2 separate regions of the Homo sapiens genome follow, and region 2 is linked to region 1. Evidence: fine-mapped expression QTL. A gene starts in region 1. The other region holds a variant in brackets. All regions are shown on one strand. Distances are between the middles of the regions.

Evidence for each region. PIP is the estimated chance that this variant, and not a neighbour inherited with it, causes the effect.
Region 2: its variant is fine-mapped to the expression of SERPINB9 in whole blood (TOPMed, PIP 0.95).

Annotation. Positions count from the first base shown.
Region 1 is chr6:2,899,339-2,910,870 of GRCh38, forward strand. It overlaps SERPINB9 (serpin family B member 9), which reads right to left and starts at 3,971. Exons shown (of 7, transcript NM_004155.6): 1 at 3,863-3,971; 2 at 1,106-1,283. The coding sequence starts at 1,273. SERPINB9-AS1 (SERPINB9 antisense RNA 1) reads left to right here. Exons shown (of 5, transcript NR_110841.1): 4 at 578-718; 5 at 1,145-1,338. RefSeq lists enhancers at 3,435-3,936, 8,425-9,258, 9,259-10,092 and silencers at 3,647-3,696, 3,937-4,016, 4,117-4,166, 9,117-9,411.
Region 2 is chr6:2,861,124-2,870,394 of GRCh38, forward strand. It overlaps the pseudogene SERPINB9P1. Among named protein-coding and RNA genes, the nearest start is that of MIR4645, 12 kb to the left of the region's middle. RefSeq lists enhancers at 1,582-1,911, 5,564-5,673, 5,694-5,843, 8,595-9,169. The variant A/G (reference allele first, on the strand shown) is at 4,671.

The sequences.
Region 1 (11,532 bases):
TCACAAAGGACTCTAAAAACCTACGCTCTTGCACAAAGGCCATCACAGCCTTACACAACAAAATACTTGTGCAAGGACATCTACCCAGGAACTCCCCATCCAACCTCACACTGACATCACCTTCGTTATTGATCTTTTTGCCAAAAATAATTATTTCAAAGGAATTATGTAATCCTCTTTACTTTTTCCTTTAAAAATCTTAGTGTTATTTCACCTCCCTGAATGTGCACATAGCTTGCCATGGCATGCGTATTTTCATTGCAATGCCCTATTTCCAAATATATATATCTTTTAGAGAGCCTCTCTGTGCTTATTATTAAGGCTGGTAGCCTTTACACATAAACCCTCCCTTCTTCACACAATGAGCTGGGAAATTATTAAAATGAGTAATTCACTATTGAAAAGCGTCATCAAAGAAAAAGACAGTCATATTGAACAAAGGACAACTCCCATGATGAAGGCGTGTCCAGCGGCCTGCACTCAGGGATGGCGCTTTTCGGTTTCATCTCACGTGTATGTCTCCTCTCCTTTCCACAAAGGTCTGGGGACAAGCACTGATCTTGAATCATTTCCACAGGTTCTCTGAATGTTGGTGAGACTGAGCTGAGCAGTACCTGCACAGTGTGCAGCTGTAATGAAGCACTTGCCCTGGAATCCTTCTTGCAAATTTCTGTTGATGCCCTCCCTGAGCTGTTGGTACAGAAACAACTTGAAACAGGTATTAACCTTCCTTACCAATGAAAGTTTAGTTACAAAGTCTCTTGCTCCAAAAAAGAGGTAGTTCTTTGCAACTTATGTTTCAAATAATTTCAGTGTCATTTTCTAAAGAAAGATTCTGCGCTAGGACAAGACAGCTTGGATGGTCTTTTCCAAGGGATTAACCGAGGAAAGTTTCCCCCAAATAAATCTCGGTGGAGCAGAGTTCCTGCCTCCCTGCCCTGCCCCACTTCTTCCCCAGTGGACCCCGCCTCCCTGAAACGGCCAGTGCACACTCGGGCCCCAGTCCTGCCCTCCTTTCTCAGTGGCTCTGGAGTGTGAGTGTGAAGCTGGTGACAGAACACGCAGCCCAGGCCAGTCCCTGCTCCTGGCGGACGGGCAAGCTTACCTGGGCCATCTGGGTTGCGGTGTTTCCCTTTGCCCCTAGGAGAACCATGGCCAGGGCAGAGGAGATGCTCACAGGAGAACAGAACACGTTGTGCGAAGGGTTATCTTGACACAGTATCTTTAAAAGGCGTATGGCAAAAGTACCACTTGCATTAGAAAGAGTTTCCATGATGCAGGGCCTGGAAGGGAAGAATAAAGAGAAATGCAGTTTCCACACTCCCTGAATGTTACTGACCTACTTACTACAGGGCAATTTTGGAATCGTACTTTTTGTTTTCTTCTTAAAGTTCGTAAGTATTTTAAATTGGAGAAAAATTTATTTTCTGTTAGTCTCCGGCCAAAAATTAAGTGCAAATGTTAAGGTAATTAGCTAAGTGTGGTGATGGCAGCAGCTCAAACCAGCAATAGCAACAGAACTGGCTCGCCTGCAGAGCTCGCTCTCTCACACACACACACACACACACACACAGAGCTGGAAGCAGTGAACTCCAATTCTTTCCGTAAGGACCAGATCGTCCCATCTGAGGAGGAGAATGGGGTCAGGGAGGAGGAGGAAAATGCTGTTCTTATTCTTGCATGCATTTACAAAGAGTCCTTGTGAGATTTTCAACTGGGCACCAGCCTGTGGCCTCCCTGACATTCAGCTGATACACAAAAGACACTGAGATGCTGAATCTGACCCAGAGACAGACAGCTGTGAGGCAAGGAGCTGTCATCCATAGAGGCAAGTGAGTGCGTCCTGGACAGCCGGGGTGGAGCCAGGCTGCTCCCAGTCAGCCAGCCTGCCCCAGGCCCACGCGGCCTGACATCCCAGTAACTCCATTCAGAGCTCCTGCCCATCACCAGCTTCTGCACATCATGTGACCCTTGAACACAGAGTGGGACTTGGACAATTGTGTGGTTTTGCTTCGTTTTGTTTTGTTTTTAATGTGCTTCCTAACTCAGAAACATCTATTTGGGAGCTTTACTCATTACTCCCAGCAAAAGCCATGAGTGTAGATTGTGCGTGAGAGGAAGGATCTGATCCCTGCAGAACGCCAGAATGGAAAGGCAAGAAACAGCCCAAGGTGAGGAGTAAAACAGGCGAGAACAAGGAGGTGGTGCCTGTGAAGCCACTGGAGACCAAAGTGTGAATGTGAGGGGGTGGGTCTCTTGGCCACAGGCCTGAAACCAAATGAACCCCCACCCCCAGGCTGCAGTTCCCAGTGCACTTGGAAATGAGACCCTGACTCCTCCAGGTGAGCCTGGGAGACCTCCCTGACTCCTTTCCATCTCCCCCTCCTCCCCCACACCCATCCCCAAGGCCTGCCCTCTACGCCCACATTTCTTCCCACTTCGGATTCTGTGCCTGGTCTAATGCCCAGGCCCCCTCCCGAGCCTCTGGTCTCCCTAGAGCCACTCCCCACTGTCGGGACACCTCATCTGTGCTCCCCAAAACGCCACGCAAAGCGCTGGAGAGCCTTGGACAATGAACACAACCCACTCCCCCAGCCACCCCCACGCCACAGCCACACGGCACCTCAGAAAGCGGTGTCTTAATCCTCTTGTCCTTCCTCCTAAATCTCCCAGGGGCCCTTAGGCCCCTCAAAGGTGGCCGCTCAAAGCCACCTTGTTAAAACGGTGTCTTACCCACCTGCCCCCTCCCTTGATCCAGACTCACTGAGGTCACAGCCTCCACCTCTGGCCATCCTGAACCCCTCCCAAAGTCAACTCTTCACAAACACTGTTGGTCCCCCTTAGAAGGCCCCATGTCCATCACGGCATTAATTCCACTCACCCTCAAACACCGCGGCCCGGAGGCTCTGATTCCCACCCTGGAGGAGGTTCTCTTGACCCCGCCGGCGCGACCCTCCCCAGCACGACCCTTCCTCCCGAAGGTGATTCCTCATCTTGCTGGTGGTCCCCACAGACCGCAGGCTCTGCAGGCGAGCGCTGAGCCTGGCTCTGCAGATTCTCAGGACCCCATTCGTTTAGCTGAATTATTGAAAGAATTAAGATGGATAAGAGTGCTCAGATTTGAAACTCCGAGACTGGTGGCTTTATTTTTTTGTTGTTGTTGGTGGTGGTTTTTTTGTGTTTTTCTTTTTTTTGTTTTGAGACGAAGTCTCACTCTGTCTGCCAGGCTGGAGTGCAGTGGCGCAATCCCAGCTCACTGCAACCTCTGCCTCCCGAGTTGAAGTGATTTTCCTGCCTCAGCACATAGCTGACATTATTACAGGCGTGGGCCACCATGCCCGGCTAATTTCTGTATTTTTAGTAGAGACCGGTTTTCACCACGTTTGCCAGACTGGTCTCGAACTCCTGATCTCCAAGGATCCGACCGCCTTGGCCTCCCAAAGTGCTGGGATTACAGGCGTGAGCCACTGCGCCCGGCCGAGACTGGTGACTGTAAAGGACAGTGAAGAAGCAGGACAGACGTCATCCTGCGGATCCCAGAGCAGAGAAGAGCAGTGAGAACACAGGGCCGGCAGGTGGGGAGGAGGCTGCAGGGGAGGGCTTCGGCCAGGGAAGGGCAGCGAGGAGACATCCGGGAGGGAGGCGTCCGCGGTGGCTGTGGGCCGCCAAGGCGGAGACCGGCTGCCGCTCCCAGGCACCCCCCAGAGACCGTTGCTGACCCCACCGAGAAGGCACCGCCTCCCCGGGGCTCTTGGCTGAGCGACCTCTCCTGTCCTCCGGTCCCATCACTCGGTGGCAGCCGGTGGACCTGAAGCTCGCCACTCCCGTCCCCTACCCCAGCCGTGCGCGGGGACGCCCTCACCTGCCACCTAGTCCAGCGCTGCCGCCGTCTCCGTGCCGCGCTCCGAGCCTGGACGCCGACCCCCGAGGCGCAGGACCCGGCCCTGCTGCTGCGCTCGCCGCGGACTCCCGCTAGGGCCTCTGCAGGCACCGCTTTTATACCGCAGGGTCGGGCGCCTCCCACGCTTTCTGCGTTTAGGCGGAGCCTGGCGGGACCAGCGGGGGCGCCGCGCGTGGTGGCCGAGGTCAGAGCTGGGAGCAGGGTCAGGTCAGGGTCCCCCCAGTCCGCCCCGCCCGGGGCGATGTCCGCCAATGCTCCCGCCAGCCTGAGGCCGGCCAGGTTCCCAAGGCGCGCGCTCGGCCTCACCCACCCCCGGCGCCAGGGCCTCTTCAGGACCGGGTTCAGAACCTGACAGCCCAGAGAAGTAGGTTGGGAGCCTGCGGCGTCCAGGGCCTCCGCGCGAAGAAACAAGGCGTCTGCGGGAAAGGAGACGGAGCCTGGAACCCTGGGCTTTTGTACTTAAGGAAGCGAAGGTCGGGTGACAGCCAAGCTCCGTGTTCCAGTGGGAAGGTCCCATGGGTCTGTGTTCCACGCCTCTTGTCATGAATATGGGGGATTCACTTAGAACCAAAGCATTTGTTCCAGGTCCCACCACTAACTAGTACTAGTCCTGGGCCCAGAACCAGGCGTCCTCACTCCTAGTACCCAAGCCCTTCTCTAGCCACAGGTGTTTGGGCTGCGGTGTGGTGTAAGCAGCCCCATTTTCCCGCAAAGTGATGGGAAGAGACACTGAGTCACACGGGCTCAGGACACTCCTTGTGTCCTCTATCAGGGGGTCCAGAGGCAGGGACTCGGGGGAGTTGATGCAGCAGTTCGTGATGTCATCAGATATCCCCCCACCCCCTTCCATCTCAGGCTGGACTCAATTGGAAGCATTTCATGTTGGCACGGTGACGTCCAGAGGAAGGGAACAGACAAATGGCTCTCTCTGGAGCACGGAGCGTCGCCCAGAAGCCGTGCCCTCCTGTTTCAAATTGACCAGAATTAGAGCTTTCTCCTGAGGGCCTGAATTAGGGAGAAGCAAGGCAGGTGCCTAAGGCACAAAATTTCAGGAGGGCCACACGCATAGGTGCCAACCCTGCATTTGCGCGGCCCTGAGAATCAGAGCCTCCTTCAATTTGACACCCTAGGTGCCTAGCTTGTTTTTAAAAATAAAACCTTTATTAAAAGACAATTCACGGACCATAATATGCATCCTTTTAAAGCATACAATTCAATAGTTCTTGGTATATTGACAAAGCTGTCCAACTCTCACCACTATCTAACTCCAGAAGGTTTTCATCACCCTAAAAGGAACTGTGATACCCATTAGCAATTATTCTCCATTTCCTCCTTCCCACAACCCCTGGCTTCTGGGAGAGGCTCCGACCTCCAGATTTCTTTTCTGGCCCTGCGGATTGACCGACTGTGAAGATTTCATGCAAATTGAATCATACAATATGTGGTCTTTCCTGACTGCCTTCTTTCACTTAGCATAATGTTTTCAAGGGTCATTCTTGATGGTTCCAGGTAGCATTTGTTAGTACTTTATTTCTTTTTATAACTGAATAATACTTATAAAAATATTATAAAATCAAAAGGGAAATTAGAATGTATTTTGAAATTAATAAAAAATGAAAATAAAAACATCAAAATTTGTAGGATGTTATTAAGTCAGCTTTGGGGAAATTTTGCAGCATGAAATGCCTATATTAGGAGAGGAGAAAGGCTTCAAATCAATGACCTCAGTTTCTACCTTCAAAAACTAGAAAAAGTATAAATACATTGAACACATAATCAGTAGAAAAGAAGAAATAATAAAGATTAGAGAATAAATCAATGATATAGAAAACTTTATAATGATAGAGACAATTGATTAAACAAAAAGCTGTTATTTATTTATCCACTTATTTATTTTTTTGAGGTGGAGTCTTGCTCTATCGCCTAGGCTGGAGAACAATGGCGTGATCTTGGCTCACTGCAACCTCCACCTCCCAATTCCAGCGATTCTCCTGCCTCAGCCTCCCAAGTAGCTGGGACTATAGGCATGCATCACCATACCCAGCTAATTTTTGTATTTTTAGTAGAGATGGGGTTTCACCATGTTGGCCAGGCTGGTCACGAACTCCTGACATCAGGTGATCCTCCCGCCTCAGCCTCCCAAAGTGCTGGGATTACAGGCGTGAACCACTGTGCCTGGCCATACCCATGAATTTTAAGGCAACAAATGGGGGCATCGTTGTCAGTGCCATTGCAAGAAAGTGTCTGAGTAAACGTGGACCATGATGGCATAGTGCAAACATGTTAGCTGCCTCTGTGCTCCGAGGCCTAGAGGAAACGTCCTTTCAATCCAAATCATGTGACCAGCGATGGAAAATGGGTTTAGGAAAGGATAAAAACACAGAACTATGAAAACAAGGTTATTTTAGCTTTTCCTTTCCTTTCTCCTCTTTCCCCCACTAAAAATTGTATGGGGGGGTGGGGCATGAAATCTGTTCAGAAATAGCTAAGAATCAAGAGATTTTGCAATTACCTATATTTTTCATTTAAAATCTCTTCTACTTTATTACTTTAAGAAAGTCACAACATATCACAAAAATATTTCTTTATCTGATTGCTCATCATGGTTTTCCCAGATAGAAAATACACAGGGCCCCAGAGGAAGCATTTTTCCAGGATTTTCCAACACTGTCCGGAGGAAGGGAGTCTTTGATCCTCACACCAGGTCCAAGGATTTTTCAAAAATCACTACTTCATGATCAGACAAGCCCAAGAGAAATGACAGAATCATGTTGCTGGCCTGAAAACCTGGCAAACGTGTAAGCAGACCTCCGTCACTGAGGACCCACCCAGCAGTAACTTCCTTCCTAGCTCCAAGTTCACTGCAAATAAAGTCCCTCACCACCAATGACCCAGCCGTTGTGCGTCTCTAGACTCTTCTGCATCTTTAGCAAAGGCCACATTTTCCAGCTCTACCTGTGGGCATTTGACACACTTCCTTAAAGTCCTGCAAAGAGCAAAATATGGAGCGTGGCCCTATTCATTCTGCAAAGGTTTCCACAACTTTGAAAACATTTCCCTGCCCCCAACATGTTCCTATCATGCTTGTGACACAGTCAGGTTCCATTCTAAGACTCATGCATTCAGTTAACAAAAAATAATTCGCTTCCTGCCATGGGCTTGGCTTGGCACTTGCTGGGAACTTGGTACCAAGTTGAAGACACAATATCTGGCCCAAGAGGGCAGCAGTCTGAGGGAGAGACGGCGAGCACACTGAGGTACTTCCAAGGTGCCCTGAACACCCCTAGAATGGCCCAGCCCAACACTTAAGCTCCACAGGGACTTTCCACTAAATCTTCTGTCTCCCACACCGGACTGCGAGCCTCAGGACAGCCTAACCCTCCTTTACTAATTTTTATATTAGCACACTGTACATTTGGCCACCGGTACCTCAGGTTCCACATCCACAGATTCAACCAACTGCAGATGGAAAAATTTTTTAAAAAATCAAAAAATAATACAAAATTTAAAACAATACAGTATAACGGCTATTTGTACAGCATTTACATTGTATTAGGTATTATACATAATCTAGAGATGATTTCAAGCGTATGGGAGGATGTTACACAGGTTACATTTGCATAGGTTATATGCAAACACTACGCCATGTTATATTAGGGACTTGAGGATCCGCAGAGCTCAATGTTCGCTAGGATCCTGGAATCAATCAGATACCAAGAGACAACTGTATTTGCTGAAGCGTATTTGTTGAATGATTGAAAGGCTTCATACTGGGATTAGATGATCAAGAAATAGAGATCTGCAAGTGGGCAAACAGGGAAACGGCATTTCAGATCTGCATCATCCAGGTGGCTTGAGAGAACAGGGACCAAGGAAGGTCCCTGAAGATGGACTTGGAAGGGTCTGGAGGTTGTGTGTGTGTGTGTGTGCGCGCTCGAGTATGTGTGTCGAGGTTGTGTGTGTGTGTGTGTGTGTGTGCTCGAGTACGTGTGTCGAGGTTGTGTGTGTGTGTGCTCGAGTACGTGTGTCAAGGTTGTGTGTGCTCGAGTACGTGTGTCAAGGTTGTGTGTGTGCTCGAGTACGTGTGTCGAGGTTGTGTGTGTGTGCTCGAGTATGTGTGTCCAGGTTGTGTGTGTGTGTGTGCTCGAGTATGTGTGTCAAAGTTGTGTGTGTGTGTGCGCGCGCTCAAGTATGTGTGTCCAGGTTGTGTGTGTGTGTGCGCTCGAGTATGTGTGTCGAGGTTGTGTGTGTGTGTGTGTGTGCTCGAGTATGTGTGTCCAGGTTGTGTGTGTGTGCTCGAGTACGTGTGTCGAGGTTGTGTGTGTGCTCGAGTACGTGTGTCGATGTTGTGTGTGCTCGAGTACGTGTGTTGAGGTTGTGTGTGTGTGTGCTCGAGTACGTGTGTCGAGGTTGTGTGTGTGCGCTTGAGTACGTGTGTCGAGGTTGTGTGTGTGCTCGAGTACGTGTGTCGAGGTTGTGTGTGTGTGCTCGAGTACGTGTGTCGAGGTTGTGTGTGTGTGCTCGAGTACGTGTGTCGAGGTTGTGTGTGTGCTCGAGTACGTGTGTCGAGGTGTGTGCTCGAGTACGTGTGTCGAGGTTGTGTGTGTGTGTGCTCGAGTACGTGTCGAGGTTGTGTGTGTGTGCTCGAGTACGTGTGTCGAGGTTGTGTGTGTGTGCTCGAGTACGTGTGTCGAGGTGTGTGTGTGCTCAAGTACGTGTCGAGGTTGTGTGTGTGTGCTCGAGTACGTGTGTCGAGGTGTGTGTGTGTGCTCGAGTACGTGTGTCAAGGTTGTGTGTGTGTGTGCTCGAGTACGTGTGTCGAGGTTGTGTGTGTGTGTGCGCTCGAGTACGTGTGTCGAGGTTGTGTGTGTGTGTGTGTGTGTGCTCGAGTACGTATGTCGGGAGGGGGATAAGAAGAACACAGCAGCAGGAGATGAGCCTTGAAACGTATGTTGAGGTCAAATCGAAAAGGCCTGTATGCAAACCTTTGAAGCCCAGAGCTGACTCCCTTCCATGATCACCTGGTTTCAGCTATAATGGGCTTGGCACTAGCCTCCCATCCTCTGCCCATCTTCTTGTTCTCAAATAATCTTGGTTCTACAGAAGAGGATGTAGAGAGGAGAAGGGGCTAGGCAACGAGAAAGGTGGCAGGTGGCCCCCTGTGTCCCCAGTATTCTCCAATTATAATAGTCAAAGATCAGGCCAATGTTCAAAAATGATTCCTGGGATCGCTGGTGCTTATCCACCCAAAGGGCCCAGAATCTGCCCCAGTGGGATATAAGCCGAGAGCAGGCAACCTCCACAGGAGAGTCCCCGGCAGCAGTGATGACTGGGATGTATTTGAATCTTACAGAAGAACCCTTGGAATCCAGCCAGTCAGCAGCTCACTGATCTCAGATAACATCATCCTGCATGCTACCTGGTGTGGTGAAAAGCAAGAGAGATCAGATTGTTACTGTGTCTGTGTAGAAAGAAGTAGACATAGGAGACTCCATTCTGTGCTGTACTAAGAAAAATTCTTCTGCCTTGAGATGTTGTTGATCTATGACCTTACCCCCAACCCCGTGCTCTCTGAAACATGTGCTGTGTCAGACTCAGGGTTAAATGGATTAAGGGCTGTGCAGGATGTGCTTTGTTAAACAGATGCTTGAAGGCAGCATGCTCCTTAAGAGTCATCACCACTCCCTCATCTCAAGTATCCAGGGACACAAACACTGCGGAAGGCCGCAGGGACCTCTGCCTAGGAAAGCCAGGTATTATCCAAGGTTTCTCCCCATGGGATAGTCTGAAATATGGCTTCATGGGAAGGGAAAGACCTGACCGTCCCCCAGCCCGACACCCGTAAAGGGTCTGTGCTGAGGAGGATTAGTAAAAGAGGAAGGAATGCCTCTTGCAGTTGAGACAAGAGGAAAGCATCTGTCTCCTGCCCGTCCCTGGGCAATGGAATGTCTCGGTATAAAACCCGATTGTACGTTCCGTCTACTGAGATAGGGAAAAACTACCTTAGGGCTGGAGGTGGGACATGCGGGCAGCAATACTGCTTTGTAAAGCATTGAGATGTTTATGTGGATGCGTATCTAAAGCACAGCACTTGATTCTTTACCTTGTCTATGATGCAAAGACCTTTGTTCACGTGTTTGTCTGCTGACCCTCTCCCCACTATTGTCTTGTGACCCTGACACATCCTCCTCTCTCAGAAACACCCAGGAATGATCAATAAATACAAAGGGAACTCAGAAGCCGGCGGGATCCTCCATATGCTGAATGCTGGTCCCCTGGGTGCCCTTATTTCTTTCTCTATACTTTGTCTCCGTGTCTTTTTCTTTTCCAAGTCTCTCGTTCCACCTAACGAGAAACACCCACAGGTGTGGAGGGGCGACCCACCCCTTCAACCTGGTAGAATTTGTTTGAGCCTCATGTATTGCATTATGGAAGGGTTTTTCTGGACTGTGAGTACACGTTTAAGTAAATAAAAGCTACTCACATTTAAAGCCTCAGTTTAATGAACAGATTTTTTATTTACAAAAACTATTCTGTCAGTAATGGGGGTTTATGAGACAGAGGGAGGTTTCAGGCTGTGCTTGGAGAGAGTGCTTAAAAGGCAGTTAAGATGGTAGTGTAGAAGCTAAAGGGGGATTGTGAAGCCAGGCAGTAGCAGGGATGACTCAGAAAGGGGGCGAATGTAAGAGGCCTTGAGAGGAAACCAGTCCAGCACCCAGAGGTGAGATGGGGGAGGAGGCCCTGATGGCTGAGCCTTGTGCTGCATGCTGGAAGACGGGGTTTAAGGAGGAGACGCAGATTTGGGCGCAGGAGAATGGACATATTGAAATTGACATCAGAAGAGGGTTATCAAAAAATAAACAAGGGAGATGTAATTTAGAAGCAATATTAAAGATTAAAATTAGACCAGGCCCAGTGGCTCACACCTGTAATCCTAACACTTTGGGAGGCCAAGGCAGGTGGATCACTTGAGGTCAGGAGTTCAAGACCAGCCTGGCCAATATGGTGAAACCCCATGTCTACTAAAAATACAAAAATTAGCCAGGCGTGGTGGCATGCGCCTGTAATCCCAGCTACTCAGGAGGCTGAGGCAGGAGAATGGCTTGAACCCAGGAAATGGAGGTTGCAGTGAGCCAAGATCGCACCACTGCACTCCAGCCTGGGCAACAGACTGAGATTCTGTCTCAAAAAAAAAATAATAAATAAAAATTATAATTACACAAGTGCAATTCTAAGTACATGTGATGGCAGCAGAATTGTGTGTATTCTCTACTCTTCTGTAGTTCCTCTTTTATTTTCCTTTTCATTGATTCTGAGTACTACTTACTAAAACGTGTTTTTTTCTCCAAAGTCTGTCAGCGATTCTAAGATATATTCACTTCAATGGGAAGTGACTGGAAGTCTTGGTGAACGTCGTTATCTTTGTTTAAACAAAGTGCCTGGTAATATTAAACAGCAATGCCAACTTCGAACATTGCCCTCTTACTTCCCCTAAAGAGGGACCTCCAAATGAATCTCTACACAAAAAATTAGGTAGGGTCCTATAACGAAATGCTTTAATTGTCTAGCGCAGGGTTTCTCAACTGACGTATTGCTGATGTGTGAAGCCAGATCATTCTTTGCACTGGGTG
Region 2 (9,271 bases), 39 kb before region 1:
ACAAAACAGGCCACTAGGCTCTACCAATCAGCAGGATGTGGGTGGGGCCAGATAAGAGAATGAAAGCAGGCTGCCCGAGCCAGCATTGACAACCTGCTCAGATCTCCTTCCAGACTGTGGCAGCTTTTTCTTCTTCTTCTTCTTCTTCTTCTTTCTCTTTTCTTTTCTTTTCTTTTCTTCCCCCTTCTCCTTCTCTTCTTCTCTCTTTCCTCTCCCTTCCTCCCCCTCCCTTCCTCTTTTCTCTCGCTTTGCAATAAATCTTACTGTTGCTCGTTTTGGGTCTACACTGCTTTTGTGAGCTGTAACAGTCACGGTGAAGATCTGCAACTTCACTCCTAAGCACAGTGAAACCATGAGGCCACCAGGAGTGAATTAACAACTCCAGATGCGTTGCCTTAAGAACTGTAACATTCACTACGAAGGTCTGCAGCTTGCCTCCTGAGCCAGCAAGACCGTGAACCCACCAGAAAAAAAAAACTCCAAATACATCTGAACATCAATAAAGGACAGACTCCAGATGTGCCACCTTAAGTGCTATAACACATCATGAGGGTCTGCGGTTTTGTTCTTGAAGTCAGTGAGACCAAAACCCCACCAATTCCCGGTCACAAAAGGGTATAAAGTTTGAATTATGGGTTGAGCATTCTGGCTCACACCTGTAATCTCAGTACTTTGAGTGGCTGAAGTGGAAAGATAAGTTGAACACAGGTGGGGGAGGTAGCAGTGAGCTGAGATCACACCACTGCATTTCAGCCTGCGTGACAGACTACCTCAAAAAGTTTAAGGTACTCAAAGTTAACACATTTTGGAAATCTAAGGTACAGCATGGCTATGAAAGTTCATGAGAATGTATGCTTGAGATGTGCTAAGAGTAGATCCTGAATGTTCTCATCACATACACAAATGATAAGTAAATGTGGAGGATATGTTAATTTGCTTGACTATGGTGATCATTTCACAATGTATCTGTATTTATGGTTTAAATGTTTGTTCCCTCCCAAACTCATGTTGAAATTTAATTACCACTGTAACAGTATTAAGAGGTGAGACCTTTAAGAGGTGATCAGATCATGAGGGCTCTGCCCATATGAATGGATTAATGCATTTATCTGGGGAGTGGATTCCTTATAAAAGGACAATTTGGGCCTTCTTTTGTCTCTCATCCTCTCTTGCCTTCCACCTTCCACCATGGGACGAGGCAGCAAGAAGGCCTTCACCAGATGCCAGACCCTCAATCTTGGATTCCCTGCCTCCAGAACTGTGAGGAAATAAATTTCTGTTCTTTATAAATTACCTAGTCTGTGGTATTCTGTTATAGCAGCACAAAATGGACTAAGACATATATCAAAACATCACATTGTACATTGCAAATGTATACAATTTTTGTTTGTCAACTATACCTCAAGAAAGCTAGAAAAAATCAAATAGTCAAATGGATCTAAAGTGTTTCTAAGTAGCAAAAGTGCTTTACACATCTATTTTGTTACCATGTTCTATGTCATATTGAAGGTGGGCTTGCCTTTCCACCTTTGGAGTGGATCATAAAGTCCTTGAAGAATGGTCTTCCCACAGTATTCAGCACACAGGAGTACCCAAGACATTTGTGTAGAGTTCCTCTGAATTAAAGCTGATGTCAACAACACTTCAGATGTCACCAGAGGGTAGGCAGGGCTGCAGAGTCACCCACCTTCAAGGATGATGCTCCAGTCATACCCAATGTGAAAGGTGTCCCCTGGAGCCATGCAAACAAATGAGGTGGCCCCAAGAACAGGATCCTAACATCTCAGGAAGTCAGTCGGCCTTGCTTGGCCACAACTTGAGTTGCACTTAATTTTTAAACTACCATTAATCCCCCAAAACAGGTGGTGAGAAGGTATTTTATATATGAGTGTAACGGCTTTGTTCTCATTCTAAAAGAAAGCAGATGTTATTCAAATCAGATGACCACAACCAGATGACGGAAAGGGGAAGGCAAAATGTTTTAACTTATTAAAAATATAAACTTGACTCAGAATACTCACATGATTCAGCTAAAGAGAAAATCATCTCTGGTGTTTAGGCACTCATTTGCATTTAAAAACCCAAAAGGAATCATTGTGACGAATTGTTGATATTAATATTTGTATTAACTGTCTAGGGCTGCCATACATAACAAAGTACTTTAGGCTGGGCAGCTTAAACAACAGAAAGGTATTTATTGTCTCATTTCTGAGGGCTGAAAGTCTAAGATCAAGGTGTCAGTAAGGTGGGTTCCTTCTTGGGACTCAGAGGGAGAATATGTTCCAGGCCTCCCTCCTTAACTTGCAGATGGCCCTCCTCTCTCTATAGCTCTTTAGTGTTTTCCCTCTGTATGTGTCCGTGTCCAAATTAACCCTTTTATAAGGACGCCAGTCATATTGGGTGACCTAATGACCTCATTTTGCCTTAATTACCCCTGTAAAAACCCTGTCTCCAAATACAGTCACATTCCAAGATACTGGAGGTTAGGAATTTAACATATGAATTGAGGGGAGTGAAGAACAACCCAATCCAGCCCATGACAGTGTCCTAGTGTTTCAAGACAGTTTCTGCACAGATAGACATGGAGACATCGTTCTATCCTTACCTTGCTGATTTTAAGACTCCCTACCCCACACACAAGTTGCTGCTGTTGTTTATTTAATAAAACTGTGTAGATCACTTTCCTTTGAAACACTGATGCACAGCTGTGGAAGGTGGGGTATCTGGGATTACATGCCGACATCCAACCTCGCTGGACCTATCCGGCCCCAGGCATTGCACCAAGGACTGAGATACACTCGTGGATTTAATCATCCAAACACATCTCCTAGGAGGAAGGCCATACATGATCCCCCCAGGCTGAGGCTTCTTAAGGCTCCCCAAGGGGAGGTGGACTTGACACACTGAATACAGGATCACTCCCAGTTGCCCAAAGAGTTTACAGGGCAGAATTACCTTTTCATCTTTATATCCCCAGGGCCTGGGCCAAAGTCAACATTCCTACATGTTTGTTAAACTAAGCTGAACTGGAAGAAACTGCTCCAAATACCAGTGGATTCTTTGGCCGCCATGCCCTGAGCTATGTAAGGCATATGCCTCCTCCATCATTTAGTAAGAGATAACTAAAGAAATGTTTGGGCTGGGTGCAGTGGCTCACACCTGTAATCCCAACACTTTGGGAGGCCGAGGCGGGTGAATCACTTGAGGACAGGAGTTTGAGACCAGCCTGGCCAACATGGTGAAACCCCGTCTCTACTAAAAATACACAAAAAAATTAACTGGGCGTGGTGGTGCATGACTGTAATCCCAGTTACTCGGGAGGCTGAGGCAGGAGAATTGCTTGATCCCAGAAGCCGGAGGTTGCAGTGAGCCCACTCTGTCTCAAAAAAAAAAAAAAAAAAAAAAAAGAAAAGAAATCATTTGCTGATGACTATTGTTCTAAAGTTTTTTGTTTTTTGTCTCCCAGAATAATTAAAAATTGATTGCTTTTCCTTACCTAATAATTTTCTTATCTACCACATACCAATTTATATGTAGTAGAAATAGTTGTGGAAATAAATTTCTGTCCTTTATAAAGTACAATGCTGTTAACAACAGAAAACATAAAAATTAAAGACCCCACCCTCTGTCGCTTTCACCACCTAAGCAATTGTGTGTGTTGCAGGGACACCGCTGCAGCCTCTGCAAAGGACGGCCCCTCTGGCTTGGCCTGATACAATTTCTGGCAAGATTCTTTAAAGTTTTGGGGGAAAGACCCATCCTTCTTATGCCTTCATAGGAATGAGAATTGTATTCATTGCCACAATCTTTCTTGTTTCTCCATAGTCAACAACTTTTCTGAGAAATGAAAACCCTAAAAATTGTCCTGATGAGAGAGTCAGCTACCAACAATCCCAGAGTGTTGAGAAGAGAGGGCAACAGCAGCAACGGACCAGGCATAACCAAATGGAGACGGGGCAGCCTGTTGTGGGGAGGGTCAGTCGTAAAATAATCGGCCCATTTGTCCATTGTATTCCATGACCAGATTTTAAGCTCCTTGAAGATGGGATTCTGTCGTGATTTTGTGACCCCCCTCCCTTCACCTTGCAACACGTAGGATAGAACTCACTGAGCATTTGTCTCTGAAGAAGAAAGGAATCTTTCTTTCCCTCCCTCCCTTCCACTCGCTCTCCCTCCTTCCTCCCTCCCTCCCCGCTTCCCTTCCCCTCCCCTCCCCTGCACTCCCCTCCTCTCTGCTTCTCTTTCTTTCTCAGGATCTCACTCTGTCACCCAGGATGCAGTGCAGTGGTGTAACCTCAGTTGACTGCAGCCTCGACCTCCTGGGCTCAAGCAAACCTCCTACTTCAGCCTCCTGAGTAGCTGGGATTACAGGCGTGTGCCATCACGCCCGGCTAATTTTATTTATTTTTTGTAGAGACAAGGTCTCACTAGGTTGCCCAGGATGGTCTCAAACTCCTGGCCTCAAGTGATCCTCCCACATTGGCTTCCCAAATTTCTGGGATTACAGGTGTGAGCCACCAGTCCGGGCCAGAAAGGAAACTTTTTATCTGAGGAATATGAACCCCTTTAAGTCATCAGGTCCAGACAGGCATTGAAATGTGACAGTAGTCACATCTCACTCACTGCTTGAGCTATGTATGTATGTAATCTGCCTGCTATGTGGACTCTTG[A/G]CCCAATGCCACCACCAATAGCTATAAATTAACCTAACGACGGCATATGCTGGACAACATAACTTATACCCTATAGTTCAACTATAGCCAATCACTAATCAATGTTATTTCTGTAAACCAATGAGAATTCTTAACCAACAATGTTGGTAATTGCCTCCTCTCCTGATTCATCCTTTGTTCTCTGGGCACTTCCCAAGACAACTTGGAAGTGTTTCCCAAGCAGCTGTTCTCAACCCTGACCCAAATAAACTCTCATATTAATTTTGCCTCAGCTTCTTCCTGTCAGTCGACAACTCCTAACTAGCTATTTTCATCCCTTTTCAAGCTTCCTAAGAGGTTACTTTCATTTAGGTTCGTGATATAATAAAAAATATATCTGGTGTTTATCCCCAGTTCCCGGCACAGAGCTCCTAAAACCCTTGGAATTTCCTGAGTAATGCGAGTGTGTTTTGCTATTCAAAATGAGCCGCTTTAGCTACACCTGAGCTTATGCTGATGAGGCGGCTCTTGGTGATCCCCTGGGGAGGGAAGAAGGGCTGGGAATTGAGTTCAGCCACCAATGGCCAGTGAATTAATCAATAACACCTATGTAATGGAACCTCCATAAAAATCAAAAAGACCAGGTTGAGGGAGCATGTGGGTTAATGAACAGACAGGTGCTGAGAGGGTGGAGTGTCTAGAGAGGGAATGGAAGCTCTCTGCACGCACCCCCGACCCCCCTTAACTTGCTCTCTGCATCTCTTCCACTGGTTGTTTCTGCCTTTATAATAAACTGGTGATAATAATAAAGTGCTTTCTTGAGTTCTGTGAGTCATTCTAGTAAATTATTAAGCCTGAGGGAGGTTATGGGAATCCCCAAATTTGTACTTGGCCGGGCAGCAGTGTGAAGAGCCTGGGCACCCCATTTGTGACAGGTGTCTGAAGAGGGGGTAGTCTTGGGGGCTGAGCCCTCTAACTGGACGTTAAGTACTGTCAGAATTGAATTGAATTGTTGGACACCCAGTTGGTGTCAAAGAACTGATTGGTGTGAGGAAAAAAACCTCTTAAAGGTCTTTACTCCCACTTACTGGTAGTGTTGCTAAGTTCATAATGCCTTTTTCTTATCACTCATGGCTTCATTAGGCTTGACTTACTGGTCTTACTTGCCTAGATTGGTCTTGAACTCCTGGGCTCAAGCCATCTTCCTGCCTTGGCCTCCCAAAGTGCTGGGATTGCGGGTGTAAGCTACCATGCCCAGCCTCAGTGTTTTTAATACACACAATAAAACTTATTACCTTAAAAATTAAACTTCTCATGTTAGTCTAAAACAAGTTCCAAATGAGTTAATGCAAAAACACAAAATTATAAAAGCTCTAAGGAAAAAGACAAGTGAATATTTATATAATCTGAGTGTCAAGAAGACTTTCTATGCAAGACTCTGGAGGAAGAAAACAAAAAAAATACTAAAGTGGACTATTTAAATAAAAAAAGTTCTTTACTTAAAATATTAATAACACTAATATGTAAATTAAAAGCACGGGAATTATCTTGCGATATGTATATAACATTAAGAAAAATCTATTGGTAGAGAGTGCTTAAAAACTGCAAGACAAAAAAATGAATATCCCAAGGACAAAAGTAGGCAAATAAAAATAGGCTAATTCTAAAAGAAGTATGGGTGACTAATAAATGAAAATTTAAATAATGACGTGCAATTTTCCTCCCATCAAATTATCAAAGTGATATCTGTAATGGTAAAAATATAAATAGCTGGAATGTCTGTTTTTACATGATTGAATAATACATTATGGTTAAGTTACCTAATGGATCACAAGGTAGCCATTATAAATGATGCCAGAGAGATGTATTGACATTTAACAAAGCCCAGGCGATTTTCTGTTGCATGAAATATGCATAGGCACGAGAGCTCTGATTTAGCAGCTAAAAACATGAAGATCCAGAAATACTTTATTTCATGCATCTTTTCTTCTCCCAACCCTATTCTGGCTGAAATCGACTAAAATGAATACCACTGGCAACCTTGTTCGTGGGATATTGTACAAGAATGAGCTCTTAAATCAATGTGTCAGAAAATGAAGGAGACACAATGCTGAGGTGGTGTTCTGGATTAAAAGAATTTTAAGCAACATCACAATGAAATTTGATGCATAACCCTTGAATGGATTCTTGCTCAAATAAACAAGCTATAAAAGTATCTCCAAGACCGCTGGAAAATTTGAATATGGATTCAGTATGACAAACTAATTGTTCATTTTAATAAGTATGAGGTATTACGGTTACATAGGAAAATGCCCTTTTAAAAAATAAAAAATGCACATTTAGGGGTATATAAAAACGTATTTAGGGGTAAAAAGTAATGTATATAATTCACTGATTTTTTAAAATGTCCAATCCAATATTAAGTTCATCTGCCAAATGTTTCATTTTAAATGTTTCAGAATTTTTTTTTTTGAGATGGAGTCTCGCTCTGTCGCCCAGGCTGCAATGCAGTTGCGCAACCTCGGCTTACTGCAAGCTCCGCGTCCTGGGTTCACGCCATTCTCCTACCTCAGCCTCCCAGTAATTTTTAAGTTTCTATTTTTCTGTTGAGGTTTTCTATCTGTTCACTCGCTATGCCATCTACTCCTTAAATCCTTTAACATATTTCTAAGAGTTGCATTGCAGTCTTTGTTAATTTTAACATTTGTCTCACTTTCGTGTGTTTTTATTGACTTTTTCCTGGTTATGGGTCATACTTACACTACGTAGGTTTAATAACTTTTTAAAATATGCTAGACATTTCAGCATGTAGTTGAGAGTCCAGAGATCTCAGGCCTCAGGACTAGGGCTAGTATAGCCCTAGAAGATTATTCTAAACTATTATCTAATAAAAACCAAGCTTCCACAAGATCCAAACCAACCCACCAGTTGTTTCGTATACATTGTCCAGTTTACGGTTAATAACAATGGGAGGATAACTCTTGATACTTGTTACTCCACCTCGGCTGGAATTAGAAGTAACAAGTTAGGCTCTCAGCTTTGTTACCACCCGTGACATGAGGGGTTGGGCTAGGTAAGTGCATGCATCAGAATCACTCACCCGGAAATGCCCATTCTCAAAATTCCTGAAGTCTCAGATGGGGCTTGAAAATTCAGAGGTCTCACGAATCCTAACAATTCTAATATTGCCCATACAGAAAACCACTTAGAGCCAGATTTGATTCAACCCCAGAAGGTAACTAAAACCACCTGAGAAAGTTTTAAACACCAATGCTTAGGCTCCGATCTAAAATAATTAAGCTTCAGTGGAAAGTAATGTCTGAAATTTGTGGATTCTTGATCACACCTAAATTAAGCAAAAAAAGCCACAAAAACCTCACAGTGAGCGTTACAGTTCTTAAGAAAGACATAAAGACACCCAGAGCTTATTCCTTTTGACATTCAGATAGGCACAATTTTTTCTGCTAGCTAGTTCATGGCCTCATCAGCTTCAAGAGTTAACCCACAAACTTTCATGTGAAGTATTACAGCTCCTAAAAACACAGAGCCCAAGAATCAAAAAACAAAACGCACCACAGTTTAGCCTGAAGAACGTAAAAAAAAAAAATCAAAAACCCCAACACAGAAAACAAACTCAGCAGTTTGTGCTACTAGGTCAGGCAGCCTGCTTTTATTCCCTTATCTGGCCCCACCCACCTCCTGCTAATGGTCCATTTTACAGAGAGCTGATTGGTCCATTTTACAGAGAGCTGATAGGTCCATTTTACAGAAAGCTGATTAGTCCGTTTTGACAGGGTGCTGACTGGCGCATTTACAACCCTGAGCTAGACACAGTGCTGATTGGTGCATTTACAATCCTTTAGCTAGACATAAAAGTTCTCCAAGTCCTCACTCGATTAACTAGATACAGAGCACTGATTGGTGTGTTTACAAACCTTGAGCTAGACACGGAGTGTTGATTGGTCTGTTTACAAACCTTGAGCTAGACACAGAGTGCTGATTGGTGTATTTACAATCCTTTAGCTAGACATAAAGGTTCTGCAAGTCCCCACTAGATTAGCTAGACACAGAGCACAGATTGGTGCGTTTACAAAGCTTGAGCTAGACACAGGCTGCTGATTGGTGTGTTTACAAACTTTGAGCTAGACACAGAGTGCTGACTGGTATATTTATAATCCTTTAGCTAGACATAAAAGTTCTCCAAGTACCCACTGGACTCAGGAGCCTAGGTGGTTTTGTTTAGTGGATTCCGCTGCTTTGGCTGAGCTGCCTGCCAGTCCGGCACCAGGCACCTGCACTTCTCAGCCCTTGGGCAGTGGATGCTACCAGGCGCCGCGGAGCAGTGGGCGGCGCCCAGCAGGGAGGCTTGGGCGCATGCGGGAGCCCACCACCGGGGTCGGGGGGCTGGGGCATAGCGGGCTGCAGGTCCTGAGCCCTGCCCTGTGGGGAGGCCCAACGAGAATTCTAGCGCGGCGCGCTCGGACCAGCAGTGCTGGGGGGGCCAGCAGTGCTGGGGGACCCAGCACGCCCTCCGCAGCTGCTGGCCCGGGTACGAAGCCCCTTACTGGTCGCTCTAAGTGCAGGGCCTGCTGAGCCCGCCCACGCCTGCGCCCACCTGGAAC